7 separate regions of the Homo sapiens genome follow, and regions 1, 2, 3, 4, 5 and 7 are each linked to region 6. Evidence: fine-mapped QTL for protein levels in blood plasma. A gene starts in region 6. Each other region holds a variant in brackets. All regions are shown on one strand. Distances are from middle to middle.

What was found. PIP is the chance, under the fine-mapping model, that this variant and not a neighbour inherited with it causes the effect. The UK Biobank Pharma Proteomics Project read protein levels with antibody pairs (Olink). The fine-mapping took linkage between variants from a reference panel, not from the people measured, so its PIPs are less certain.
Region 1: its variant is fine-mapped to the plasma level of the GASK1A protein (UK Biobank, PIP above 0.99).
Region 2: its variant is fine-mapped to the plasma level of the GASK1A protein (UK Biobank, PIP above 0.99).
Region 3: its variant is fine-mapped to the plasma level of the GASK1A protein (UK Biobank, PIP above 0.99).
Region 4: its variant is fine-mapped to the plasma level of the GASK1A protein (UK Biobank, PIP above 0.99).
Region 5: its variant is fine-mapped to the plasma level of the GASK1A protein (UK Biobank, PIP 0.97). The variant lies in the coding sequence of GASK1A. If it changes the protein, the assay may bind it differently, which can mimic a change of level.
Region 7: its variant is fine-mapped to the plasma level of the GASK1A protein (UK Biobank, PIP above 0.99).

What each region holds. Positions count from the first base shown.
Region 1 is chr3:43,008,853-43,012,917 of GRCh38, forward strand. The region is part of intron 1 of GASK1A (golgi associated kinase 1A); the gene reads left to right. Among named protein-coding and RNA genes, the nearest start is that of GASK1A, 32 kb to the left of the region's middle. The variant A/G (reference allele first, on the strand shown) is at 2,346.
Region 2 is chr3:43,083,137-43,087,201 of GRCh38, forward strand. The region is part of intron 1 of POMGNT2 (protein O-linked mannose N-acetylglucosaminyltransferase 2 (beta 1,4-)); the gene reads right to left. POMGNT2-AS1 (POMGNT2 antisense RNA 1) reads left to right here and starts at 2,898. Exons shown (of 2, transcript XR_007095896.1): 1 at 2,898-4,065. The variant C/T (reference allele first, on the strand shown) is at 1,777.
Region 3 is chr3:43,076,669-43,080,733 of GRCh38, forward strand. It overlaps POMGNT2 (protein O-linked mannose N-acetylglucosaminyltransferase 2 (beta 1,4-)), which reads right to left. Exons shown (of 2, transcript NM_032806.6): 2 at 2,566-4,065. The coding sequence ends at 3,021. Among named protein-coding and RNA genes, the nearest start is that of POMGNT2-AS1, 7.3 kb to the right of the region's middle. RefSeq lists enhancers at 2,959-3,460, 3,461-3,960. The variant C/G (reference allele first, on the strand shown) is at 2,352.
Region 4 is chr3:43,059,078-43,063,142 of GRCh38, forward strand. No RefSeq gene overlaps it. Among named protein-coding and RNA genes, the nearest start is that of POMGNT2-AS1, 25 kb to the right of the region's middle. RefSeq lists an enhancer at 3,498-4,017. The variant G/A (reference allele first, on the strand shown) is at 1,847.
Region 5 is chr3:43,053,904-43,057,968 of GRCh38, forward strand. It overlaps GASK1A (golgi associated kinase 1A), which reads left to right. Exons shown (of 5, transcript NM_001129908.3): 4 at 1,529-1,632; 5 at 2,273-3,812. The coding sequence ends at 2,483. Among named protein-coding and RNA genes, the nearest start is that of POMGNT2-AS1, 30 kb to the right of the region's middle. The variant G/A (reference allele first, on the strand shown) is at 2,370.
Region 6 is chr3:42,977,721-42,981,785 of GRCh38, forward strand. GASK1A (golgi associated kinase 1A) reads left to right here and starts at 1,591. Exons shown (of 5, transcript NM_001129908.3): 1 at 1,591-1,925. The coding sequence starts at 1,923.
Region 7 is chr3:43,028,012-43,032,066 of GRCh38, forward strand. All of the region lies in intron 1 of GASK1A (golgi associated kinase 1A), which reads left to right. Among named protein-coding and RNA genes, the nearest start is that of GASK1A, 51 kb to the left of the region's middle. The variant C/T (reference allele first, on the strand shown) is at 3,482.

The DNA.
Region 1 (4,065 bases), 31 kb after region 6:
ATGGTTTGCCAGTGTTCAGAATGCTGTGACTGTAACTGTTACCAGCCCATCCACAGATGGAGAGAGTGCGGCATGGGGCAGTAACTTAAAGGAGGTGCTGGAGTTCCCAAGTACCTTGGAGATTTAATAATCATGAGATTTAATGATAATGCTAAGTAATAACTATAAAAATGTATGCAAGGCTCTGTTCTCAGCACTTTATATACATTAAAATATGTTGAATCCTCACAGCAACTCTTTGAGGGAGGAACCATTTTCATACTCATTTTTCAGATGCAGAAATTGATGTGAAGATATATGCTTATTAGGGCAAAGCTGGGGGGTTGGACCTAGAGAGTCCAGCTCCTGTGTATCCTTCAGCGCATCCTTCTAGATGTTGCCTTTCTGAAGTGAGTGTAAGTATTTGTTGAAAGATAACACAACTCATCATCTCCCATGTCTCAGCTGGTATCAGGAACCCCAGCCAATGTAATGAAGAGACGGATCCAGGTATTTCTCAGGTCTTTAAAATCCTTCTGCTAGCACTGCTTCCCCCAGGTTATCTGGGCGCATTGAAAATGCTTCTGGATAAACCCCTGATGGCCTGAGCTAATTCTTTCCCCCATGTGCCCTGAAGTCCCCAGGGCCAGAACTGGCTCCTGTGTGCTGGGAAGGGCTTGGTCTCTGCAGGCTGGAGGCCAGAGTTGGAATCTCAGCTCTTCTACTTAGATGGTGTGTCACCTTGAGCAAATTTTGAAGTCTCTTTTTCGAGTTCCTCAGCCATAAAATGGTATGATATTTCCTTCCTACCTGTTAGAGTCATTGTGAGAATATCTGGAGGCAACATCCTTCTAGCCATAACAGTGAAAAACATGTAACAAACTCATGGTGTCATCAGATGTTGGTGGAGACCTCAGGTGGTGGCACCCAGAACTGCTGTCCAGCATTCCATGCTTCACCAGCCCTGTCCCACAAGTTTGGAAAGATAAGTGGCCTGAACGTAGGCAAGGCTAGATTTGCCAGAATTGGCATGAGGGAAATTATTATATCATTACCTTTTCACTTGAGACAGTGAGTTGCTGGGGGGCAGGGGCCAAGCCTTCTTCGCACTGGTGTCCTTATTTCTTGGTCCAGTGCTTGGCATTAGGGGAGGTCAGAATAGAAGGATAAAATTGTAATGCAGCACAATTTTTCTGGGGAGCAACCTCACCCCTACACTGTTCCTTTGGAGGAAGCTGCCTCCTGCCCCAGGGTGCTCTGGATTCCCACACTGGTTCCCTGAGGGTCTCCAAAGTACGTGCCTAACATCATATGCCTTTCCCAGTATCCTTCACTCCCTGTTGTCTACCAGTCACATGTTGGGTTCCAGGCCGTTATATATAGCAACTCAGTACCTACAATAACAGAAACCACTCTGGTGAAGGAGGGAGTCTGAAAAGGTGAACTCGTACTCAGATATTACCCAGCCAGAGCCTTCTTCCTGCTAGGCCATACTCTTCAGTAGAACCCTAATGCTTTCAGGGCTTCTCAAGAAAGCCTAGTTCTTGAGGCTTTCTCAAATCCCCGAATTTGAGAAACACCATTATAGCATTTTATATTCTCCCATGAAATACAGTAGAGTGGGCTGCAAGAGTTAAATTTTCAATTTCTATCACTGTCCTTGAAAAATAATTTTTACCTTGGCTGAGGCCTTTGCTGAAACGATTTTTTGAATTGCTTTTCGTATTTCATGAGGGTGGAGAATTCATTTGGATTATAGATTTCTGCCATCTCTAAGTTTGACATTCCTTTCTTTCTTGCTTTAAAAGCTAATATTTTCTAGGTCTTGTCTCCCTGTGTACCACTTCCTCCCCACACCCATCCCAACTGAGAACCATCATTTTCTAAGGCTTCTTTTGGTTTTCATTCCTTCCCCAGCACTAGCTATTGCCATTTGTTCTCCAAGGAAGTTTCCATCACATAATAAGATTACAATATCCCTGATGTTATGCTATGGAAGCTAAGCAGCAGAACCTGGGCAGACAGCCATGGACACATGGATGGCTCCTCCTACCATATTTGCTTGAAGTAAATGAGATTCAGATCTGAGCCTCAGAGGAATTTCAAATTGCACCCTGCCATGGACCTTTAGCCTCTTACCTTCCCCAACTCCCCCCTCTCCACCCACCAACAAATCCATTAAGGTAAAATATCTATAGTGTTTTTAACTGTTCAAAATAGTTTTCTTCAAATGTGCCAAGAGGGCATTTGCTTAGGCAGATTAAGAAATGGGCCAGGCATGGTGACTCACGCCTGTAATCCCAACACTTTGGGAGGCCGAGGTGGGCAGATCACGAGGTCAGGAGATCAAGATCATCCTGGCCAAC[A/G]TGGTGAAACCCTGTCTCTACTAAAAATATAAAAATTAGCTGGGTGTGGTGGCGTGCGCCTGTAGTCCCAGCTACTTGAGAGGCTGAGGCAGGAGAATCACTTGAACCTGGAGGGCAGAGGTTGCAGTGAGCCGAGGTCGCACCACTGCACTCCAGCCTGGCGACAGAGTGAGACTCCATCTCAAAAAAAAAAAAAAAAAAAATGGTTAGGAGATCACAAGAGATTTTTATTGCAAATAGGAACCTTTTTCTGTATGTAAGAACCCACTGTGTGGGCTGTCATTTACAAGGCAGGGCTGGCTTCTAGGATTTAGCACACACTGAATTGCAGCAAGTCAAGGCTGTGTGAAGCCATGGGAAATGGCTGTGTGAAGTCACAGAAAGGGACAATGTGAAGTCACAGGAAGAAGCAGAGTGAAGTCACAGGAAGGAGCAGTGTGAAACAATAGGAAGGGGCTGGAAGATGTCATAAGAAGAAATTATGTGAAGTCACAGGAAGGGGCTGTGTGGAGCCAGAGAAAGGGGCTACGTGACATCACAGGAAGGAACTGTGTGAAGCCAAGGGAAGGGGCTGTGTGAAGTCACAGGAGGAGGCTGTGTGAAGCCACAGGGTCAGTATGAAGCCACAGGAAGAGGCAGTGTGACGTTAGGAAGGGGCTGTGTGAAGCCAAGGAAGGGGCTGTGTGAAGTCATAGGAAGGGGTAGTGTGAAGCCAGATAAAAGGGCAGTGTGAAGTCACAGGAAGCGGCAGTGTGAAGCCAAAGGAAGGAGCAGTGTGAAGCCAAATAAAGGGGCTGTGTGAAGTAACAGGGACAGTGTGAAGCCAAAGGAAGGGGCAATGTGAGGCCAAAGGAAGGGACAGTGTTGAGCCATAGGCAGGGGCTGTGTGAAGCCACAGGAAGGGGAATGGGAAGTCACAGGAAGGAGCAGTGGGAAGTCACAAAAAGGGACTGTGGAAAGTCACAGGAAGGGGCAGAGGGAAGTCACAGGAAGAGGCTGTGGGAAGCCATAGAAAGGGGCTGTTTGAAGCCACTGGAAGGGGCTTCTGAGGTCACAGGAAGGGGCAGTGTGAGGTCACAGGAAGGGGCTGTGTGAAGCCACTGGAAGTAGCTGTGTGAAGCCACTGGAAGGGGCAGTGTGAAGCCACTGAATGGGACAGTGTGAAGCCACAGGAAGGGGCTGTGTGATGTCACAAGTAGGGGCAGGGTGAACTTACAGGAAGTGGCTCTGTTAAGCCACAGGAAGGGGCAGTGTGAAGCCACAGGAAGGCACAGTGTGAAGTCACATGAAAGGGGCTGTGTGAAGTCACAGGAAGGGAAGTGGAAAGTCACATGAAGGGGCTATGTGAAGTCACAGGGAAGGGCAGTGTGGAGCCACAGGCAGTGTGAGGCCACAGGAAGGAGCTGTGTGAAGTCACAGGAAGGGAAGTGGAAAGTCACATGAAGGGGATATGTGAAGTCACAGGGAAGGGCAGTGTGGAGCCACAGGCAGTGTGAGGCCACAGGAAGGAGCTGTGTGAAGTCACAGGAAGGGAAGTGGAAAGTCACATGAAGGGGCTATGTGAAGTCACAGGGAAGGGCAGTGTGGAGCCACAGGCAGTGTGAGGCCACAGGAAGGAGCTGTGTGTAGCCACAGGAAGGGGCAGTGTGAAGTCACAGGAAGGGGCAATGGGGTCACAGGAAGGGGCTATGTGAAGTCAGAGAAAGGGGGGTTGTGTGAG
Region 2 (4,065 bases), 110 kb after region 6:
CCTCCAAACTTCAGGAAATGAAAATTACCGTGACCAAGTATCATACATTCTAGCTTTTTTTTTCTAGTACACTGTATTCTAAGTTCATTAACAACAACAGAAACAAAACAAAACAAAAAACCTGCCCATAATCATCTTAATTAACTTTCCGACCTACTCACCAGGTTGGCAACTTACTGTTTAAAAAATACTGGTCTACTCCAGATGTTCTCAAGCCTGGCTGATTACTGGAATCCTCAGGAGTAGTTGCTAAATAAAAATCCATATTCCCAGGCACCAGTCCTGGAGGTTCTGATTCAGTAGGTCTGGAGTATGGCTCAGGCATCTGCATTATTTGTTTCTTTTATTTCCTGCCTTCTTGTGAATTACTTGAATTCCACTTTGATTTATCAGTAGTGTTTTTGAGTATATCCCTTGATATAGATTTTCTAGTGGTTGCTCTAGGCATCATACTATAATCTGTAACTTATCACAGTCTACTGGTATTGACATTTTACGTTTCGAATAAGTGTAGAAACTTTACCTCCACCTAGGTTCCTTTATAATTGTCTTATGTGTTTCCTCTACATATAATGAGACCCACATCAGACAGTAATTTTGGCTTCAACTGTCAAGTATGATTTCCTCAAGAGGGAAAGGATCATCTATTATATTCACCCATATTTTTACTCTTTATGTTCGTCCCTCATTCCTGATGTTCCAGGTTTCCTTCCATTCCTATATCCCTTCTTTGAAGAACTTCTGTTAGTTCACTATTCTTTTAAGGTCAACTTCCTGGCAACAAATTCTCTTAGTTTTCCTTCATGTCGAAATGTCTGATTTTAGCTTCATTCCTAAAGGATATTTTCACTGCGTATAGAATTTGGGGTACAGATTTTCCTTCTTTCAGTATGTGAAAAATGATGCTGTGACACCTCCTCTGGCCTCTGTGACTGCTGATGAGGAACTGCTACCCTTCGAATTGTTTTTCCCTGGAGGGAATGCATTGTCTCCTGCTGCTCTTAAGATTTTGTTGAGTTTTCAAAAGTTTGACTCTGAGGTGCCTTGGTGTGGGTTTCTTTGGGTTTATCCTCTTTGGGGTTTGCTCAGATTCTTGAATCTGTAGGCTCATGCCTTCCCCCAAATGTGGGAAATAGCCATTATTTCCTTGAAAACTTTTTCAGCCCCACACTGCTCTCCTAGGACTCCAATTACACCAATGCTAGATTAAAAAAAAAAAATTGTATTGGCCAGGGGCGGTGGTTCACACCTGTAATCCCAGCACTTTGGGAGGCCAAGGCGGGTGGATCACGAGGTCAGGAGTTCGAGACCACCCTGGCTAACATGGTGAAACCCCATGTCTACTAAAAATACAAAAAATTAGCCAGGCATGGTGGCGGGCGCCTGTAGTCCCAGCTACTCGGGAGACTGAGGCAGGAGAATGGCATGAACCCAGGAGGTGGAGCTTGCAGTGAGCCGAGATCGCACCACTGCACTCCAGCCTGGGTGACAGACAGAGCGAGACTCCGTCTCAAAAAAAAAAAAAAAAATTGTACTGTCCCACAGATCTCTGAAGCTCTGTTAATTTTTTTCCGGTATTTTTTCTCCCTGTTGTTCAGACTGGATGATTTCTATCATTCTGGCTTCATGTTCGCTGATTCTTTCCTGTGTCCTTTTTATTCCTGATTGAGCCCATTCAGTAATTTTAAAATTCTGCTTACTCTATTTTTCATATCTAAAATTTCCATTTAGTTTTTATAACTTCTTTTTTTTTGCTAAAACTTATCCTGGACATTT[C/T]GGTCATAATGTTATGATACTCTGGATCTTACTTAAATCTTCTATTTTAGTAGCTTCTGTTAAAACTGTACTGGTGGGGGAAAGGAGAGCATTGACTCTTTACTGTTGGGCGGGGGTGGGCATCCAGGCTCCCTACTCAGCCTCCACCAATACCATCGTGGCTGGGAGGGGGAGGGATACTCAGCACAGAGTGTGTGTCAGGGTGTCAAAACCCAGGCTCTGCAGTTGGCCTCCAATGACACCCTGGGGTGTGGATGGAAGTCTAGGCCCCAAGAGGACTATGGTAGTGAAGGACGTATGTTACTACTAGGCGGTCGTGAAAGTCTAGGCTTCCCATCAAGTGGGGAGGGTGTGGGGCAGCTGGTTACCCCTAGGCAAAGGTGGAAGTCTAGGCTATCTGATATGGTTTGGCTCTGTGTCCCCATCCAAATCTCATCTTGTAGCTCCCATAATTCCCACATGTTGTGGGAAGGACCTGGTGTGAGATGACTGCATCTTGGGTTGGGGGGGGTTCTTTCCTGTGCTGTTCTCGTGATAGTGAATGGGTCTCACTAGATCTGATAGTTTTAAAAACAGGAGTTTCTTTGCACAAGCTCTCTCTTTGCCTGCTGCCATTCACGTAAGATGTGCCTTGTTCCTTCTTGCCCTCTCCCATGATTGTGAGGCCTCCCCAGCCATGTGGAACTGTAAGTCCAATAAACCTCTTTCTTTTGTGAATTGCCCAGTCTTGGGTATGTCTTTATCGGCATGAAAACGGACTAATACGCTATCCATCTGGCCTTTACTAAAACTGAGGGGTGGAGGAGGAGGAAATTTTCCCTGGTGTTTTGCAGGAATGGGGTATTTACAGCAAAAAAAAAAAAGTTTTGCTAAACTGTTCCTTCTTCCAGTCCTTTGACAAAAGAGACCAAGCTTCCTTGGGGCTTTGTTTTGTTCTGTGCTCACTGGCATTCCTGGATTGTGGGCTTCTCTAGCACCACGGTAGAATATATAGGAGGCAAGAAGAAAACCCAGAGAACTCACCATTATGTTGTTCTGTGAGTTCCAGGATCCCCAGCTGGTTCACTCTTTTCTCCACCTTTCAGTCTTCCAATGTTTTATATATAATGTCCAGTATTTTTAGCTATATTAGTAAAAGGGATAGGGATAAATTTGTCTACTCTATTTTGACCAGAACCTGAGGTATCCTTGGCATCCTGCTTTTTTTTAACCAAGCTCCCAGGTGATTCTGGGGTACAAACAGGTTTGAGGAAAACCAAGTAGCTCTTAACCAAAGAAGCAGGCCATGAATCACATTACCACTTATCAGTTTAAAAGCTTGGAAATGTTTTCTTATTTCTTCTGTATATAAATTAGAGTAGGCTCAATGTCATCCTTATAATCACATCACCATCACTCAGTTGCTTTCTGATACATCTTGAGTCAGGAAGATGAGGATCACCATTTAGCTTGCACAAGAACCCACAACCCCACTGCCTAAGCTGTGGGCAGCAGTGAGCAGCCTACATGTTAGTTATGCCTTATTAATAGCAACAGCTAGTATGAGTTACTGTTCTGCTTTACTTCACTGCAAAATATCTTTTGGGTTTCAACAACACCTGTATGCCCATAGGAGTATGCCATGCATGTGACTCTTCCCTATCACGTACTATGGGGGAAAGACAAAGGGCCAAACGTTGCAGCAGGAACCCTGCAGAACTTCAGATCAGGTCTATCACTTTGCTCTGTGACACTGGACATGCTGCTATGCCTCTCTGGCTCCTGGGTGCCTGGATGATCAGATAAAGCATCACGCTGACCTGGGCTTCTCACCTGTTTAGCAATAAACTATGAAGCAGGATGCCAGCAATAAACATAAGCCCAGCTAAGCCAGGATACAAAGGAGTGGCTTCATTTTTTGTTCTCAGAAGGGAGAAAGGAGAGGTGACTCCCACTCAGGCAATCATGTCTACCCAGAACCTTAGAAGATGACCTTATTTGGAAAAAGGCTCTTTGCACAGACAATTAGATAAGAATCTTGAAATGAGATCATACTGGATGAGGATGGGTCATAAATCCAATGTGACTACCCTTAAAAGAGACAGAAAAGGACACACGGAGAAACAGAAGGCCATGTGAAGATGAAGACGAGACTGGAGTGATGTAGTTATAAGCCAAAGAGCCAGCCCGGATGACCAAAACCATTAGAAGCAAAATAGAAGAAAGGAAGGATTCTCCCCTAGAGCCTTCAGAGGGAGCATGGCCCTGCTGACACCTCAATCTTAGACTTCTGGCTTCTAGAACTGGGAG
Region 3 (4,065 bases), 99 kb after region 6:
CTCTTTGATGGTTAAGATGCAGATTTATAATAAACAGGATAGAGAAATGTAAATGCCCCTAATGTTACGTAAGTTCTTATCACTCCTGTGTGTGTTTGTGTATGTATGTATATATAGGAGTCATAAGAGATTATTTATACATTCATCCCCCTATGAATATGAGGATGATGGAGATGGTCTCTATCGTGTAGGGATGTGTGTGTTACATGGATGTATGTATTTGTCAAAACTCACGTAACTCTACACTGACGATCTGAGTATTTCACCATAAACACCAATAAATGGTTTTTTTTAAAAAAAGCAGCAGCAGCAAAAGAAAAAATGCTGCTACTATTCAGTGCTATCAAGGGGTGGCCTGGGCTGCTGGGCATGGATCCAGCTCCTCCATGGAGCCTGGGGGAAGGAGGCTAATTTCCTAGTGATTGTACACAACGTTCTCTAGCTAACCAAAGTCTTGTTTCCAAAGAATAGTCATCAGTGACATGGCAGAGTGTTCATGTCTTAATGTTAAAGAGGAAAAAAAAGAGGGGGGCAAAATTTCACATAAAGCGGATTCCCAATTTGTAAAAAAGTTTGGACAAAGGCAGAGATACACATATTCATTGAGGCAAGGAACCATTCATTGAGCTTTCGCTTGGCTGTGACCCACATGACACAAACCCTCACTGAGCTCCCAGCCTGTGAGCAAGGTCTTGCGGAGAGGTAAGTGCTTCCTGGGAGACAGTGGCGGGGCCAGCAGAGTTAAGGCTTTTTGGGTGTGACAAACTGGGTTTTCAGGAGAGCTGGCCCTTGGGCTAAGTGGTCTTCCTTTTAAATCAAGGTGTGCCATACAGAAAGCACAGAGGTGAGTGAGTGCACTAATGTACCGTGTAAGCAGGATGATGGCTTTCCTCAATGTCCACGGTGCAACCACCATCCAAGACCACAATGTTGCCAACCCACAACCCCCTTGTGTCCATCCCAGTCTTTACCTCCTTTCCCGGTAACCACCATTCTGACTTCCATCGCCATAAGTTTGTATTCCTGTTCTAGGACTTCATACAAATGGAACCATACAGTAAGTATTTTGGGTCTGCCTTCTTTTACTCAATGTTGTCTGAGATTCACTTCATTCTTTTTAAAATTGTTGTGTCCATTGTATGAATATACCTGTTGATGGACACTTGAATTGTTTATGGTGTTTGGCCATTAAGAGTAGAACCATGGACATTTTAAGACATGTCTTTTTGCTGACATAAGCACTCATTTCTCTTGGGTATATATCTCAAGAAGTGGAATTGCTGAGAGATAGGACAACTAAGTGCTCAGCTTTAGTAAAAACTGCCAAATGGTTTTCCAAGTGGTTGTACCATTTCACTCCCCCAGCCCCAGCAGTGTATGAGATCTCTGGCTTTGAGCTGAGTCTTGATGTGTGGATTCTCATGGCAGTTTATGGTGGCAGCAGATGGAAGCTACAGTTAGGGAGAAAGATATTCTGGATGAAAGGAATGTCATAAAGATCCATGGCGACCATGAAAATGCACCATTCAGATCTCCTGCAGCAGAGAACAAGGGATGGCTCAGCTGCCATGCTGAATCCACCAAGGTACTGATGCTGAGGCCACACTTCCCACTGCGGCTCCCAGGTGACGACTAGCATCGGCGGGTGGGAGGGAATACTTATCTAATGGACACCTTTGGCTCAAAACTCCCCGATCAGCCTGCTGAGAGGTTCTCAGCACTGAGCTACAGCCTGAGGCTCTACCTCCTCTCCCCAGCTTCTCTCCCTCTCCCCCTTACAGGAGTCAGACCTGCAGCAGGTCTCCCCAACAATAAAAGGCCAAAACTCCTCTTTCTTCAGGACAGATTTTATCTTGGGCTAACTTTCTAGCTCTGCTCCCATGGAAGCCAGACAAGCCAGTTAGCTGAATGTCAGGTACAGTATTAGGCCAAACTGCCCATGGGAGTTTTTGACCTCTGATTGATAAGCTACACCTGGGCTGGAAGGACAAAGAATAAGCTATACCATCTGGTAAGAAACCATGGCCTTAGGCTTCCCTAAGTGCAGAAACTCATAACTGGGCATGTCCCTTGAGGGACCCTGGGAACTCTGATTGTGGGTTGTTGAAAACACATTGACTCCTATGGGGCATGGGCTTCTGAATCAAGGTGGCCCTCAGGAGTACTGATGTAAGGACTGCTCCTGTGGAAGGGAACTGCTGACATGGCCCTGCTGGCATGCTGAGCATCTCTCTCCATCCTTCTAAGAAACTCTGATGCCAGGTATGATCTGTCCAGGTCTTGCGAGTCTTAATGTCTAGTTGAGCCCAAAAAAAAACCCATGGTGGATACAGCTCTTCCTCCCCTCAGCC[C/G]TCTCCTACCTACTTCTAGGCTTTTATCCCATGTAGGTGGAACTGTGATATTAGTCCAGCTAGTCAAGATGAAATCCAACCAGCTTGCTCACTTTGCCATCCTGGGCGCTTTCCCATTGCCACGTCTCCCTAGCTAACAATCAAGATTAAAGGGCACCTGGGTTTTGACGACCAGCTCCCCTTCCTCCCATCCAATAAGAAGACTTGACCAAGATGCTTAGAATCATTTAATGAATGTTCCAAACACACCCTTCACTGGGCTACAGGTAAATTTCACTGGGATGGAAGCAGATGAACCACCCAATCAAACAGTACATGATTACTCGGTTTCCAGAAATCTGGATACCAGAAAAACTCAGTAGGAAACATCAGGATCACCTAGCCAGAGGTTCCTTGTGATTCTTTGCTTCCTCCTCTCCTCTTCCTCCTCCCTGCTAAGGAACTTCTCCAGGGGTACAAATGTTCAGGATGGGAGAAGGGGAAGTCAGGTCCCTTATCTCTAGGGCAAAGAGGAGTGCTGTGACACCACACCCCAGAGACAACAAGATGATGTGGAGGCACAGGCCTGCTCAATAAATAGTTCCCAGAAGTCTCCACAGTGGGATTAATGGGCCCAGGGACGCTGAACTGCAGGAGCCACCTTCCCGAGGCCAGGCTGTGGCCTGCTCGCTACGTGTTGCACACCAGCACATCTGCAAAGGGTCCCAGGAGGATCTTGTTGAAGATGCAGCGGACCCACACCAGGTAGGTGGTGAAGGGCTTGATGTTCTCAGTGAAGGTGTGGTTCTGCAGAGCCAGGATGTAAGGCACGTAGGTGTTCTCCCCCTGCTCCTGCAGCCACACCTCGTACTTCACCTCCCTCACCTTCAGGTATTTAAGGTTCCATGGGATCTGCCAGGAGACAGTGAGGCGGGCCTCGGAGGCGCCATGCACTGACGCCTGGCACCGTGCCTCCCGCACCTTGCCTGGATATAGGCCGACTGTCCACTTCTGCTTCCGTGGTCCTGGCCGGCCCTTCACCACGCGCCGTATGGTTTGAATGAGGGACGGGATGTCCACCTTGGTGTCCTGGTAGATTCGGAAGAGCCACTCGGGGTTCCGGCAACAGAGATGCCGTGGGACCTCACGGCTTTGCAGGATACGGGCTTGCTCAGCCCGGTCCAGATGGGTGATGCCCCCCTGATCCCAGGGCCGCTCAGGGTGTGTGACTGTGTTCTCTGGCATCATGTTCCGCCAGGCTACATACTGGAGGTCCATGCCAGGCAGCATGGCCAGCGTCTTATAGGGAGTGTAGTGGTCGGGATTGACAGCATATGGGAAGAGCTCTACCACAGTTGCCCCACGGGGCAGGAAGAGGGTGGTGACCAGCTGGGCCCCATGCATGCTGACCAGCATGGAGGCATTGCTGACCAGCCGCACGACATCAGCAAAGGTGTGGTCCTCCAGGGACACTGTCACTGTCTTCATCTGGAACTCCTGGGCCAGTGCCAGCAGCAGCTCTGCCTCATTCAGAATGAGTCTGTTCTGGGTTCGGCTAAAGACCAGAATGTACTCCTCGCCTAGGGGGACTCCTGTGTGGCTCACGTTCAGCTTTTCTGTCATGAACCGTGCAAACTGCCGGATCTCATTGCCTGAGACGAGGATGTTGGCCTTCGGGCCCTGGGGCTGCACAAAGCCATACTGGTACCAGGTAGTGATCTTGGAGAGGCCCACA
Region 4 (4,065 bases), 81 kb after region 6:
CATCTTATTCTGGACTTTAATGGGAACACCTCTGTGGTTTCTATTATGTTTTGTCAGGTTTAAAGAAATCATTTCTGATAAATATCTTTCATTAAGTTAAGGAAGTTTCTTTTTATTCTTAGCTTACTAAAACCATTTTTCAAAAATCAAGAATGGGGATTGAATTTTATTAAATGCTCTTTTCAATATCTATTGAGCATATAGTTTTTCTCCTTTATTTTCTAATGCTGAATAATCTTTACATTCTCAGAAAAAACCTATTAGGCTGAGGTATGTTAGTATTTTGGGAACTGCAGAATTTAACTTGCCAATATTTTACTTAGAATCTTTGCATATACATTCATAAGGTTTTCCTTTTTGGGCACTCCATGGCTGTCTTACTATTAAATTTAAACATACCTCATAAAATAAATTCAGAATTTTATTTTATCTTTTTAATGCTTTGTAAGAGTTTAAATAAGAACCATTTATTCCTCAAAAGTTTTATAGCACTCTCCCATAAAACCATCTGGGCCCTGTGCCTTTTGCTAGATCTTTTACAACCTAATGTAGGAGATAGGTAACAGGGGCCTGCAATAAACCAACATGCCTGGCATATTCAGTGGGCGTGGAAATGTAGAAGTGTCCTGGGCAAGACTCAGGCCCTTGGAAAAGGGAGTTTGGATTTAGAGATTTCAGGCATTTCTCTTAAGGTCACCAATGTTTATTTGACTTTGACTTTTTGTCTTTTCTCCTCTCTTCTTCCTGTGTTCTCAGTTCTTTCCAAGGATACCCTTATCAAGTGATGCTGTTCCTCTAGGCCTCAGCCAGTTTCTGTTTAACAGTCTCTGCTTTGCCTTCTGCCTGGTAGACCTACACTCAGCCAGAGGTGGGAGTGAGACACTTGTCATCCTAGAAAATGGCAAGAAGAAAGGAATACAAAGAAACATTTCATTGCAAAACATAATGTGGAGCTCTCACATTAGGATGAGGCTCATTCTACTTTGTGACTTAACCAGCCGCTTTGAAATAAAACAGATCTAATCCTGTCTCACCACCGAGAGACTGACATGCAAGTGGACAATGCCCAAACTACATATAATAATAAAACTCTATCCACCACCTCTGTAGCAACCAGCTCAGAGAACCAACCACAATGTCTGTAGCATCTGCTCAGTAGGGTGAAGACCTAGTCAGTGACTGCCAGCTTCCTTATTTTTGTCCCTACTTCCAACTCAGGATCAATCAGAGAAAGCCAAATATGCTCCCCTAACCAATCAGTTAGGATGCCCCACCTCTAGTTTGCCCATCTCCAGTGTCTCTCATGCCAGCAGCCTCCAATCAGGGTGCACCTGGAGCCTTCCCTTTCTTTCTCACTATAAAGCTTTCCCAGTCCCTGCCTGTCTTGGAGTCCCTGCCAAATGCAAGTGATGGTGCTGACCCCCTTGCCGTAGCAAGCCTCTGTCTGTTCTCCCTTGGGTGGTCTTTGTTGATTTCCATACTGCCTGGCTGTAAGAATTAAACAAAGTTAACTAGTAATCCAGGTGAAGGCACTGGCCCGGCAGCTGGAAGGGTAGGCAAACTGAGCCACATTCTGAGAGCAGGTTTCCTTTACACTGAAATGGGGCAGAGGTGGCCGCCTAAGAAAGGAGGGGAAATCTGCCTGGCAGGGTTGCCTGGTTTTGTGGTGTGTGTGTGTGTGTGTGTGTGTGTGTGTGTGTGTGTGTGTATGTAGAGTTTCTCTTTGAAAAGACCAAGCCAGACTCTTCCTGTCAGTGAGCAAGGCCCCAGCTTGCACCAAGCCCTTTTGTGTGCTGATGTGAACAGGTCTGCTCAGCATAGACAGTGGGGGCACATGGGCAGATAC[G/A]GAGTGGCCCCTCTCAGCCTGCCCAGTGCACAGCAGCCACTTGTAGCACTGTGGCATAGGACCCAGCTCTCCCTCCTTAGCTTATCTGGGAAGGACACCATTTCCAGGCACTCCCATCAACACTGACCTCTTCCTACCTGGGGCGGGGAGAAGGGCAGACTCCCTAGGATAGGTGGTTTACATGGATCAAAGCATTTAACCTCACAGCAACAACATGGGGAGGTGTGATTGTTACTCTCTCCATTTTACAGATGAGGCACAGAGGGGTTAAATAACGTACCTAAGGTCACCCAGCTTGTAGGTAGAAGGGTGGGACTTCAAACCCATCAGGAACTGTGCTAGCAAGTCTCGCTTCCAAGACCACCGCTTTTCCCACCACACTCCCCAGCCCAGCCACCCTGACAGTTCCTCTTCTGCTAATCCCTTTGGATTCAGAAGGATTAGCAGGAGAAGAACTTTCTGTTAAAGATGTGGCAGGGCTGGTTCTCTAGTCCAGGGAGCCGCAAACTGCAACTCCTGGCCAAGCACATTCACATGCATTTGGCTCTTGGCTTGTTAAAGTCTGCCTAATCTATTAGCTGTGTCTTTCCTGCAAACTGGAAACTTCATCCACTTTTATCCTTTTCAAGAAAGCCTCTTTGCCTCAGTGCTTGCTGTTCACCCAGCCATTCCCTCTGGAATGAGAACCATGTGCCAAGTGAAGCAAACAGCTGGGAATCAGTATGTTCCCACTAAGCGTAGAAGAGTCTGTAGGGTTGGAGCTGCCATGGGTCTGCAGTGGGTGGGGTGCCGTGAGGGTTCTGCTCCGATTCAGACAGATGAGCCTCAGAGGCTCTGCTGAGGCAATCACAATTGCCAGCCTCCGTGCTGCCAGACAGGCCTCACCCCAGGTCCAACCTGCTCCTCCTGCATCCCCAGCTGAATGGGCTGCTCCAAGAAAAATGATGGTTTCCAAGCTAGAGGAGCTGAAGATAGTAACACAGGTTCGCAACCTTCTAGATGCGATACCAGCAATTCCCCAGAGCATGAAAATCAAAAGCTTTTTTGTATGTTTGGTGCTAAAACTCATGTCCCACTCAGTGTGAATATTTATACAACTTACTGCAGAAATAGTGATGTGTTGGGTTATTGGGTGTAACCTCGGACTCTGTTGAGGGCACTGCATAATGCACGGCATGTGAACCATATTACCTTTCTAAATCTGAGAGATTCAGAATTCTGAATCACATCTGGCCCCCAGGGTTTGAGTATGGGATTCTGGACAGACCTGTAATAACTCATGCTAAGGGCTTTACACATCTTATCTCATGAATGACTAACAACAACCCCAATTTGATTATGGTTACCCTACAGATAAGGAACAAATGACAGAGGTAGCGGGGAGGGAAAAAAGAGAGGTGGCTTGCCTGAGGCCACACAGATGGGAGCAGCAAATTTTTACCCGTGATGCTGGACAGATGCTTCAGGGATCCTGAGATCTTTGACTTCAGAAGTTTCCAAGGTGGAGGCCCTGGGTGTGGTGCATCTTGGCGATGTGGCCACAGCAGCATCTGAAGGCTCTGTGGTCCTGAGGCCAGAGCCCTGTTCAGTGCAGCCCTTCCTAAACTTATTTTGTCAAAGAGCCCTTCCTTTGGTTTTTTTGTGGCCTTTGTGTTGCTGTTATCTTTGTTTTACAGATGAGGCACAGAGGCGTTAAGTAACGTCTGTCAGCATTCCTCAAGATGCACTTTGAGTCATCCTGACTTGGCTGAAACCCCTTTGTTCTGCAGACAAGGATCCTGAAGTCCAGAAAGGCCTGGCCAAGGATGCAGGCGATGGCTCTCCCCTGGAGGGGTGAATGCGATGCTCCTCCTCCCCTAGCCACGGCCCCCACCCTGAGTGGAATGTCAGATGTGGGTTCCCTGAGTTGGGTTGGGAGCCTGGAGATTGGAAGGAAGCCAAGCAGCTCCTTGGCCCGTTCATCCCCCATGAGGCTGGAGGGATGTGAGGAGCCAGCCCACGTGCCTCAGTGGTCTGAGGTTTAACTGACTTCTGCCATACTGTAGGCCCGTGCTGGGCAGACTATTATCAACTGAGTGGAAGTAGGAAGCATGAGTGCTTATCCTCCTCTGTCTGCACCCCCAGGCACTCTGTGTTTCAAAGGCACCAGAGAGGTTGTGGCTGATCCAGAGAGTGAGTGCTCCGATGGACGAGAGTCGCGGTTGGAAGAATGGGCAGAA
Region 5 (4,065 bases), 76 kb after region 6:
TAAGAGACTCCAGGGAACAACTAGGGCTCCTGGAAGTAGAGTTTGAGAATGGTGTGTCTAGTCAACATCCTCGTTGTGCCAGTAAATGAGGAATTGCAGTCTGGAGGGAAAGGAATCTTCAAGGCCATACGCTAGCAGCATTAGGGCATGAACCCAAGACTGCAGTGGCTCACAGGCTGGTGCTGCTCCTGTCAAAACTAGAGTCCAGGGTGGGAAGCAATGTGCCGAGGCCATTGGAGAGGGCAGAATAGCCACTTCTTCTGCATAAGAAGCAAGGTGCTTCCCCCGGGGAAGGGCTTCTCTATCTTCTCCTGCAGTGAGGCATAGTGTCCTCACAGCCTCCCTTTGCTCTTAGAGGGTAGCTGTCAGCATGGTGTCCAGGGATGGGCTTCAGGGAGGCCGCATCACCCGAAGCCCAGGATTGCTTAGTGGTGGTGCTGGGAATTCTCCTCCCCTACCCCCAGAGCCATCTCTCCTTTTCCCTGGTCAAAGGTAAATATCCATGGGAGAGACAAAGTTTTAATAGCCATTGTTTACCCCTGGTGAGCAGGCATTTCACAGATCTTTTAGGACAGCAGTTTCCAGAGGGAAGAGTCACCTGGCTTTGAGCAAAAGGTGATCCTGACATGTGGAGTGGGGTGAGAAAGGAGAAGAGGCAGAGAGAAGGGAAGCTGGAGTCCTGGAAACAGAAGTTCATAGCTTAAGCCTAGGCCACTGGAGAGGATTGTGGGAAATGCCCATGGACTTTTGGAGGCTATTTGGGAAAGGAGTGCATGCATGGGAGTGGGGACCAGAAGAGATGGCCTCCCATTCGCAACCACACCATATTCTTTAAGGTACTAAAGAATTTTCTGGTGCTGATTTTGGTTTTGAAAAGGTTTAGGAGCTGCTAAACTCTTCTGTAGAATCAGATTATGGTCAGTGCTTTTTGAGGATAAAGGATATGTCTGTGATCTCAGTGATGCTCAGGGGGATGCCCAGGTGCACAGGCACAGGTGGCACAAAGGGGTGACTGAGTGTGTGTACACATGTGAGCAGCACATGTGCGATGCCCCTCACAGCCGGTGGCCCCGAGGAGCAGGCTACCTTGGCAACTGCTGATTCCCACCCTTGCTCCTCACCCCTTCAGCCACCAAAATAGGATCAGTCCTTTGGCCTTGCGATTTAGCAGATGGTGCTATGGCTTAGCCCCATGGGTCCGGGTTTGAAACAGCCCAGCTACTTACTAGCTGTGTGATTTTGTGCAAATTGCTTAACTTAAAGAAGGTGCCACCATTTCTGTAAAATAGGGCTAACACTAGTGCCTGCTTCCTAAGGTTACTGGGAGAATTAATTGACAGGATGTCTGGAAGCACTTAGCACAGTGCCCAGCATAGAGTAAGCACTCAGCGGTGAGGACTGTTTGTTAGGATGGACTGTGGGACTGACAGCTCAGGGCTGTCAGCCCCTTAATCTTGACCAAGTCCATAGGTGCCAGCCGTAGCTGCACCCTTACCCACCTCTGTCTCTGTCCACCCTCTTCCCTGAGGTCCGGAGCAGCGATCCATCTCACCTGGTCTACATCGATAACGCTGGCAACCTTCAGCACCCTGAGGACAAGCTGAACTTTCGGCTGCTGGAGGGCATAGATGGGTGAGGGTCAAAAGGGTTGGGTGGAAGTTCATGGGACTGAGACCTGATGGCCTTGCTGCAAACCTTGGGACCTTCAACTGTGGCCCTGAGAAGCCCACAGTCCATCAGACAGAAGTTATTGGATCAGAACTTTAGGCGGTGGTGGGGAGCCCTGGGAAAGCTGAGAGGGGATACAGTTGGCAGGGCCTACCCCAATATCCAGAGGGCCTCGTGCCTGCAGAATACTAGCTGTATTGCTGGGGTGTGGGAAGGCTAGTCCTTCCCTTGTTCTGGGTGAGAGAGCTAGGCCAGAGAGTCTACCCCTCCCAGCTCACTCTTGGCAGGCAGCTCTGCCTTCCCAGGATTCTTTCTGGCCCTGCATTTGCCAAGTGGAGCCTGGGATAGCGGAATTTATTCACCTGGCTTCTCTGTAGGATGGGACCCATCTGAAAGGTCTGTCCCCTGCCTTCACAGCAAAGCCAGGCAAAGGGTCCTCTGTTAGTGAGATAGCAGGTGCAGGTCTGGGGAGTTTGCCAGGTGACTTTACCAGAGTTCCTCAGCTATGCAAGCTCTGGCCATCTGGCATCACCTGTTACTGAAATTCTCTGAGATTACTGTTGCTTTTTCTTTCTGTTACGGGGCTCTGGGGCCTTTGCTCCAGGTTTCCTGAGTCTGCCGTGAAGGTTCTCGCATCAGGGTGTCTACAGAACATGCTGCTGAAGTCGCTGCAGATGGACCCAGTGTTCTGGGAAAGCCAA[G/A]GCGGAGCCCAGGGGCTGAAGCAGGTCCTCCAGACCCTGGAGCAGCGAGGACAGGTGCTGCTGGGACACATCCAAAAGCACAACCTCACACTCTTCAGGGACGAGGACCCATAAGCCGCACACAGCCCTGAGTCAATGAGCATCCATCCTGATGGCCACATTTTCTTGGGCTCACTCATCTTGAGGACAAATGGGAAAAGCCAGAAGCCAGAGGGGCACAAGGATGTCACGGGATATTTCACCTGCCTGGGATGGTGGAGGTAGTATGGGGTTTTCAATCTCAAAGCGTCCCTTTCTGCCTTCTCGGCTCTGGCTATTTATTCCCTTGCACCAACAAATACATTCGAAAATGTTCTGTGAGCTGCTCAAGAAACTGTAAAAATGTGTGATGCACGTGCATATGCAGAGTGGGAGAACTTTGTGTGTGTGTAGAGGTGTGTAGGTGTGGGTGGCATGTGTGCCCGCCTGCATGCAATACCTGAGACCAACCTAATAAAGGTACAATCTTCATAGAACTGCACTTGCAGCCTGGAGTTGCTCTGGCTGAAAGTAGACTCAGGCTTAAGAAATGAAACATAATGCGTTTGTCTTTATAGACTTTAAATTTTCAATTATTACTCAGTTATGTTTTTGGTTTAAAAAATTATAAAAGTCTAAAAGTAATACATGCTCAGTAAAAACAAGTCCATAAAAAATAGAAGCATATGACAAAAAGCATAAGTCCCACAAACTCCCTAGCGGTGTGTATGTGTGTGTGTGTTATTCATGGTCACACTACATGCAAATTAAAAAATGAAAGTGTGGTCATGCTTTGTCAACTCACTATATTTTTACTTTATTAACTATATTCTGTATCAGCCATCTGAATTGACCCAATCTTTATTGGTGACTGCATGAAATTCCAAGGCAGGGATGTGTCATATTTTCTTTAGCTGGTCCCATAATCATGAACATTTAAGTAGCTCCAATTTTTCATCAATTACAGACATTGCCGCCATGAACATGATTGCATGGCGTGCAAGTATTTCTGCGAGGTAGATTTCCGTACGGGATTTCTGGGGCAAAGGGTATGGGCATTCAGTATTCTGAGAGAAACTGCCAAATTGCTCTCTGAAATGGTGGTGTCAATTTACATTTCTCCCAAGAGGGTAGGAGACTGATTATTTTTCTACACCTTCACCAACACTTGGCATTCTCAGACTTTTGGGTTTTTTTTGGCCTATTTAGGAGGAAAACCGATTTTAAAAGCTGCATTTCCTTAATCATGAATGAAGTCATCTTTCCACTTATTTGCCAGACATTTGTATTTTCTTTTCTGCATTGTCTTTTTGTTTTAAGATGTTTGCCCTTTGCTTGTTAATTTGTTGGAAATCTTTGACTCTAATAAGTGTGATCAATCTTTTCTCTGCTGACTTGGTATAAATGTTTTCTTCCAGCCTCTAATTTGTCTCTTAACTTTGTTTATAGTCTTTTGCCAAGTGTAAAATGTTAATTTCCACGTAGTCAAATTTGTTTATCCTTCCCTTTAAGTCTTTTGAGTTTCATGCCTTCTTAGAAAGGCTGTCACCACTTCAAGATTATTGAAATAATCTGTGTTTTATTCTAGTATTATACAGTATTTCTTATATATTATATAGTATTTCTTATATATTTTCATATATTTCATATATATTCCCTCTAAATTAATATATAAAAC
Region 6 (4,065 bases):
AAATACTGGGCACTCTCTTCCTGTCTAAGTTAGTGATTTGAGACCATCATTAAAAATACATAAAATTGGAATAGAATAGAAAATGTCAGAGTGCATCACATGAAGTAATGTTTTATAAAACAATCTTTTAGTTACATTTATACATATATGTTTAATATATATCTTGTGTGGGGTCACAGTCAGAAAATGAGACTCAAAAGATCACAGCGTCTCCCTAAACATCTAAATAAAACCCTGAATGGTTTGTACTGTCCTCCACCCTCTTCCCTCATTTCCCAACCAGGGCTCAAACTCTCTGTCCTTTCAGTAGTCCATATGCACAGACAAGCTGCAGTTTGCAGTGCTACATCCTGCCTCCTGTTCCTGCCATATCAAGTCTTCCTCTTTGTTTCATGTTCTGGCAAATAGACTTGGATTTGCTAAACTGTTTACTGGCGATCTGGTCTCAGGAAAGTTACTTCACCTCCCTAATCCTGACTTTCCTAATTTGCAAAAGTTTTCCTTTTAGGATCGTTTGTGGTTATTAAATGAAATAATGTACAGAAAGCATCTGGAATGTTAAGGACCGAATACTTTCCCTTCATCTGTTCCTCCTGCCCATACACACATACACAATTTAAGGGGACTCTCTGGATCTTTGCTTCCCTTTAGAAGCACTGCCATCAGTGATAACCTCAGATCATTCTGGGGCAGGAGACTGCTGGGAAGATGCCTGTCTTCATCTAGCTAATGATGCTTCCTGTTAGTTTCAGTACTGGAGGCTAATTTTTCAGCCTGGCCCCCAAATTCTCTCAGAGCACCCTACTGCTGACTCTGCCTCGCCTCCATCCATTGTCTACAGGCTCTTAATAATCCTGGGGTCCAAACATTGGGCCACTGGGGGACACAAGTCATAAAGACGTCTGGGGACTGGTCGATGGTCATCCAGCTGTTAATAGTGGGGCTAGCCCTGATTTTGGGACTACAGAACCCCTAAGCCCAGGACATTCCCCAACGGGGAACGGATAGACTCTCAGGTCTTGCTCTGACTGTGCCTTTGTTGGCAGTAGGTGACTCAGGGGACACAAAGGCACTGTCTGTGCATCCAAAGCAGAGAGGTATCAGCCACTTACTTCAGTGACTTTAACAGTGATTAGTTCTCAAGGACAAAAACTCTTCATTGTTAATTAGCTTAGTGGTCAACGGATTTTCCTTCCAAATCCTCTTGGGGACTGAACCCAAACAAGGCGAAGAAGTGACAGTAAAAAAAGACTTGTCCTTCTGACAAGCGACAGTAAAGAAAAAGACTTGTCCTGCTTGGCAGGAGAGGGTGGCAGTTTGGGCAACACTCAGCCATATTGCTGAGTTGCAGCGAACTCACCAAGCACCCTCACACCTTAGAGGCGTCCCTCACCGTCCAGCCTTGGTGCATCACCCGTCAGGCGGGCAGTCAGGGCGTAGACCTTTCCTTCCTAGCACCTGGGCCCCTACTCCAGAAGACCAGAAGACTGCGGCTGGCCGAGCCCCCGGCAGGGCTTTTATTGTGAAGGGAGCTTCCCCCTCCCGCGCTTTCAGGGGAATGGGGAAGCTGGGCCGGGACGCGCGGCAGGGACTTTGCAAACTCTGCAAAAGTCCCGAGTAGACCGCAGAGGCTCGCGGCCGCGGGTAGGCTCCCTCAGATCCCCGTAGATCTCAGTAGATCCGGCGTGTATTCCCCACCCGCGGAGTATCCCGGTGTGCAGCGATCTCCCGAGAGTTGGCGCAGGGCCACTTGGCTGCAGAGAACGTGTGCACCTTCAGTCCGGGAAACCCGCCCCAGCCGAGTAGCCGCGCATCCTGGGAAGCCTGGCGAGCCACGGCGCCGGGGGCGGCCAAGGGGAGGCGGGATGAGTCTGCGAGCCGGCTGAGCGCGCCGAGGAGCCGGCCGGGGCACCGCCGGGGACATGGTAGGACTCGCGGGAAGGAACGCGCGAGCGGAGGGTGGGGCGATCACCAGGACAGGTGGCTGCAGTCAACGCGCAGCGGCCCAGGGCGCGCGCAGCCTGCGCGGCCTCCCGAGGCCGGAGTTGTTCCCCGAAAGTTGCATGGGGCGGCGGCGGCTTTCATTTCTGCACCAGAGCTGGGGGCGATCGGCTTTCCTGCCGCTCTTAGTGGGGCGGACCGTAATAAGGGGGCTTTTATTACTAATCTGCACTCCTTGACCTAACCGTAACCCACTCGCAACTCTGCAATCTTCATGCAATCCACAAGGCAGGGAGAGGGGAGCGTTCCCTGGGGAACCCACGGCAGCCTCTGATGAGATGCTTTTGAAGTCATTTTAATACTCTCCAAAGTTCATGTGAATTTTATACTATCTTCTCTAATTTAGCTATGTATTGATATTAAAAATAATGTCCTAACGTTTATTAACATTTAATAACTAAATTAACATTGAGTTAAATTGGCTCTAGTAAGGTTCCAATCCGCCTTCCTCTACCTCCCCGACAGGAGGACTGTTGGGCAGATGTGGAAGCACTGGTGGGTCTGGGATGTCACGATGAAACCAGGATCTTGTGGACGTGGCCCTTCCATTGATCAACTTCACAGACACTAACAGGCAGAAAAGAAAAACCCATCGAGAATGTGGCCCAGGCGGCTTAGCTAAAGGACACATGCAACCCCAGGAAAGGGGCGTCCCTCAGGCCCGGCCGCTGGTTAGTTGCTCTGCTTCTCCCGCAGCAGAAAACCCCTGCAACCCCAACTGGGCTCCTGCAGTTCACTGGGCTCCCCTGGCTGCTTCCGTGCCTGCTCGCCTCTTCCCTTTCCTTCCAAGCTCACAGAAGGCAGATCGGAACCCACTGGAGATGCTTTGTGGGGAGTTTTGCTGGGCCTGGGGTTTAGAAGGCTGTCTAGAGACTGCGCTGTAGGATGGAGGGTCTCTGTGAGAACAGCTCCTTTGTGTGCAGGGGGGCCTGGCAGGTGGCTGGAACAGAGGTGGAGGGCTGGTCATAAGGAGCTGGGGGCTCAGGGAAGGGTACCTTTGAGGCTAGGGGTGTGTGTATGTTTCACCCCTCCTAACACCTATCCAGCTTCAGGTTTTTTCTCAAAGCTGCTAAGAGAAGGAAATAGTGGAATCTTAAGCTTCAAAAGGGGGAATGATTGGGGGTACAGGATGTGAAACGAAAAGTGTGGAGATATCCTATTACAAATTCCCTGTTTAGGAGCAAGAGTGTTACCAGAACTCAGGCCACAGCCATCCACTCCGAGGGGCATTAGCATGCTGGAGTCTCCTGGCTTTAAAGGCAAATGTAGCAGAGGCTCTGTGGTCTGCGGCTGAAGCAGAGTGCCTGGAGGAGAGATGGTACCTGCCTTCTGCTCAGGCTGCCTAGGGGAACATTGGTGTGTTTGCCCCACTGCCAGCGTAAGCTTCCCGTTCTGTGAGTCATTGCAGCTTCCCGGTTTCACGTCCCTGGCTCTGGGTTCTGGTATTGTGTTAGGAAGAGGACTTGTGTCAACATTTCACTGTCTCAGGGTTCACTTGCAGAGAGAGGGGCCTGATGGTCATCCTCTGGCAGTGAAATGGCCTTGGAGATCTGAAGGCTGTCCTTTGCTTCTCCATCTGAATGAAGGGTCTTGAGGTCCAGAGACCACAGGGCAGCCTGGCACTGGCTAGAAGCAGCATGGGAGGAGACAGGGGGCTAGGAATCCTTTGAGGACCTTAGTTTCCTCTTCTGTTAGATGAGAGATTGGACTAGATGTTATTCAAGGTGCCATTTAGCTCCAAAAATGGGTGATATGTGAATAATTTTGAGATTGGATCTCAATTCTAGTGTTGAGCTGTGCTTAGCATGAACAACTAAAAAGGTGTGGGGAAGAAGTGGTTCTCAGCCCTGACTCAGGCTGCCCCCATCCCCCAGCCCAAATCCAGATGAGACCCAGACCAAGGGATGTTTTCAGGCTCTGCAAGTGAGCCCAGTGTGCTGCCAGGGCTGAGAACCACAGGGCAAGAAGGCTGAGAGAACGGGAGAAAGCTGGGGCTCAAAGCTGCACTTCCCAAGATATCCCTATGTCCACAGAGTGGTCATTCCTTGAGATAGTCCTAAAATA
Region 7 (4,055 bases), 50 kb after region 6:
TGGGTCATAGGTAGATTCAAAGATTCTCTGATTGGTAATTGATTGAAAGAGTTAAGTTATTGTCTAAAGACTTAGAATCAATAGAAAGGAATGTCTGGGTTAAGATAAGGGCTTGTGGAGACCAAGGCTTTATCATGCAGTTGGAGCCTCTAGGTAGCTGGCTTGAGGAAATAGACTGTAAATGTTTCTTATCAGACATAAAGAGGCTGTTCTAACAGTCTTAAGGTCTGTGTTGATGTCAATGCTGGTCAGCTGGGCCTAAATTTCAAAAGGGAGGACGGTATAATGAGGCATGTCTGGCTTCCTCTTCCCATCATGGCCTGAACCAGTTTTTCAGGTTAACTTTGGAAGGCCCTTGGCCAAAAGGAGGGGTCCATTCAGATGGTCAGGGGGCTTAGAATTTTATTTTGAATTTACAATACAGAAAATATACCATAAAATATTACAACAGAACTAAGACTAAATATGTATGGCATATCAAGTAATGTAAATTAGCTAAACCCACCTAATGAAAGAACACAGAGCTCTCTTGGTGGAAGTGTATGTGTGTGTGGGTGGGGGTGGCAAGTGCAGAGCACACAGAGTCATCTCCTAACCCCCCACCCCATGGGAGAACATGAAGGAATCCCCAGAGCAAGTTTAAGAACCATTGTTCTGTCCCATCTCTGGTAAGCAGGCGAGAGATTCCAGATGCAGTCCAGGTTTGGGGAGCACAGGTTGTCTAGAGGACCACACAACTTACAAGGAAAATATTCTCTAGGCTTTGTCTCCCTGCCCTGTGGCCCTGGAGGCCCTGGCTGAAGTGAGGGGGACATCAGAAGCATGACTCACCTGATTTCCCCACTGTTTATTTAGCTTGCTGGTCCCCGCCCCACCCCTTCTGCTTGCTGGTCACCACCCCACCCCTTCTTAAGCAGGGTGTCCAAGCAGGGCTTTGTGGCCCTGGGACATATAGGCTCACCTGCTGGCTTCACAGAAGCATTAATGCATGGGGTGTCAGGTGAGGGGGGAAGATATTTTAGCACGTGGGTGCCAGAGGCCAGAGGGGATTTTCTCTACTGTCTCCTCCCCTCCAGGTATGGGGGAGGGAAGGTGAGCTTAAGTGGTCCCTCCAGCAGCAGCTTCAGGTGGATGGAAAGTATCCATTGGCCCTGAGTCGCCTTGTATTGGCATGTCCCACTGAGTCTTGGGGGATCAGCTCAGAGCTGCAAGGGAGGCTTTGGTTATCATGGTCTCACTGTTCAGGCCAAGGGGAGTGATTGTGTCTCCCGGTGGTGACTGGGCAGGGGCAGAAAACCCTCATTTCAACCCTCTTCTTTGAAAGCCACCCTCCAGGGCCTACACTGACTTACTGGGCAATGGTGGTGTGTGCGTCCTCTTGTGCAGCTGTGTTCTGCTACAGGTGCTTGACATGGACAGGAGGAGGAGGTTCAGGGGAGCCCACAGCTGAGTCAGTCCACCTCCACTGTCCACCAAGAGCTAGAATCACTGGGTATTGGGGGAAGTGAGGCCTCAAAGGCTATTTCATCCAACCCAACCCCTTGTAGATGAGGGAGCTGGTCCAGAGAGTGGGATCCACACACTGGCTTCCTGCAGCTGAGGTGTTTGGCAAAAGTGGGGCCAAGAGACATCAGTGCACCACTCATGGAGGTGCTAAGAGGGAGATGCTGGCCTCATGTCCAGGAGGCAGAAGGGGTTAGGACAGGGAGAGAACCAATGTAGAGGAACTGGAGGTAGGAGGGAGCCATGGGCACTTTTTACAGCTGGGCTGTAACTGAGATTTCCCATTTCCACTTCCTTTTGATTATTTTCTGATGTTTACGGTGCTGAGAAATGTGTTCGGTTCCTGCAGAAACTGCCACTGACTTAGAAGGGACTGAAAACACAGACAAATTAGGAAATTCATGAGGGGCGGCATTCCTCCAGGCCATGCCGTTGGAAGGAAGGGGAAGGTCAAATGGGTACTGAAGGAGGAAAGACTCTTTTGTGATTTTATTTTTTTGAGATGGAGTTTTGCTGCTGTCACCCAGGCTGGAGTGCAATGGTGCAATTTTGGCTCACTGCAACCTCCACCTCCCGGGTTCAAGCGGTTCTCCTGCCAGGTTCAAGTGATTCTCCCAAGTAGCTAGGATTACACGCATGCGCCACCACGCCCAGCTACTTTTTTGTATTTTTAGTAGAGACAAAGTTTCGCCATGTTGGCCAGGTTCGTCTCAAACTCCTGACCTCAAGTGATCCACCCACCTTGGCCTCCCAAAGTGCTGGGATTACAGGCATGAGCGACCGCGCCCAGCCAGGAAATGCTCTTTTAATTGTAGAGGAAAGGGAACTCAGAGATGACCTGGATTAGGCCTTTTTGGCTGCATGTAGCAGGAGTACCCACGACCCACAGCTCAAGTGTAGAGTGAGAATGGGTTTCGTGGATGCTGCGCAGTCCCGAAGAGCCCCAGGCGGTGGCTACTGCTGTTCCTGGGCCAGGCTCAGAATTGGAACTGCAGTGCAGGATGCTGGGCAAGGCCTTTCCTCCTGTTTTCATCTCTGGTTTGTCTATGCAACGGTTTCCTTCTCTCTCCCTGCAGACTGGCTCTCAACAGAGTATGGCCCACTGCTGTCATCTTTGGCTGGGTGGCAATGGGCCCCTGCTCTCTATTTCATGAGCAGGACAAGTCAGCCTTGCTGATTTATCACAAGCCCATGCTCCCAGGGCTGGGGTTGGGGGTGAGAATCTGTTGGCCCAGCATGGGTCAGGATCCAGGATGGCCCCATCAGCTTAGGTCATGGGTCGGGGTCCCTGGATAGATATGGCTCGGGTGGATTGTGGGGGATAGAGGTGGTACTTTTGAGAGAAAGCAGGGGGCTACTGAGGATGGACTTCACCTACATGTCCACTGCAGATCCCGGATAATCCCCTTTTGACACCCACAGGGGAGCTTCTCAGAAGAGCAAGCACATGCGGGGAAAAAAGTGGGATCTGGTTTGTTTTGTGGGTGTTGTTTCTTTGACACCTTTAAAATTCTGTTTACCCGTGTGCCTTTTCTGTGCATTCCAGCAAATTGCCTCACACTGCATATAGTATCAAAAATCTCTAAGGAATATCTGGTGGATTTAGTAAGTAAACTTAATTTGGGGAGTTTTTTTGTGATTTGGACTAGATTGTCCATTCATTTTGTCAGTCACGTATCTGTTGATTCCCATTATGTACCAGGGCTCTGCCTGTAGGTCTGTCACATAAAGGCTCACAGGTACAGAGACTCCCAACTGCAGGCTTGCACTGCTCCAGACACTGCGTTCCTTCCCTTTTGTGGCTCATGATGCCCTAGAGCAGTGGCTCTCAAGCTTAAGCCCACATCAGAATTACCCAGAGTACTTCTTAAAACACAGGCTGCCCAGCCCCTGTTTCTGATTCCGGAATTCTGGTGTGGGGCCCTGAGAATTTGCATTTCTGACAAGTCCCCAGGTGATACTGATACTGCTGGTCCCA[C/T]GTGAACTTCAGTCAACCAAGAGTTGACTGAAGTGTGCATAGAATATATTTAACTGAATAACTAAGACCTGAACGTAATCCAAGGACTGCATGTTGAGAAATCACTGCCCCTAGGGTGTGTCCTTGCTAACATGTGCAGAGCTGTTGCTGCCACATCTGTGTGCAACCGGCAGGGACGGCAAGAGAGAAAGGCCAGGGTGGCTAACTTCCTTTTAAGCATGTGGGGCTGGCAAAAGTGGTTGGCTCTCATGACATAGTCAGGGACTTGGTCACATGGTCACACCCTGTTGCTAAGGAGGCTGGCAAAGTCATCTCTAACTGGGTGGCCATGTGCTCTGGCAAAGGGTAAGGGCATGTGTGTGGGGACATCAAGAGATCTGCCAGAATGGGCCCATGGGATCACATGGAGACAAAAAGAGAAGGTCAGCTCTTGGTGATGGGGACAGACGTGAGAAAAGCCCCTTATGTTGCATGGTGACAGTGTTGTAATGGCAGTTTATTCAAAGGGAGAATAAGACAGAAGAGCATGGGTCTGCAGGCCTCAGCAGAGGCTGCCCTAGAAGGAAAAGCAAGC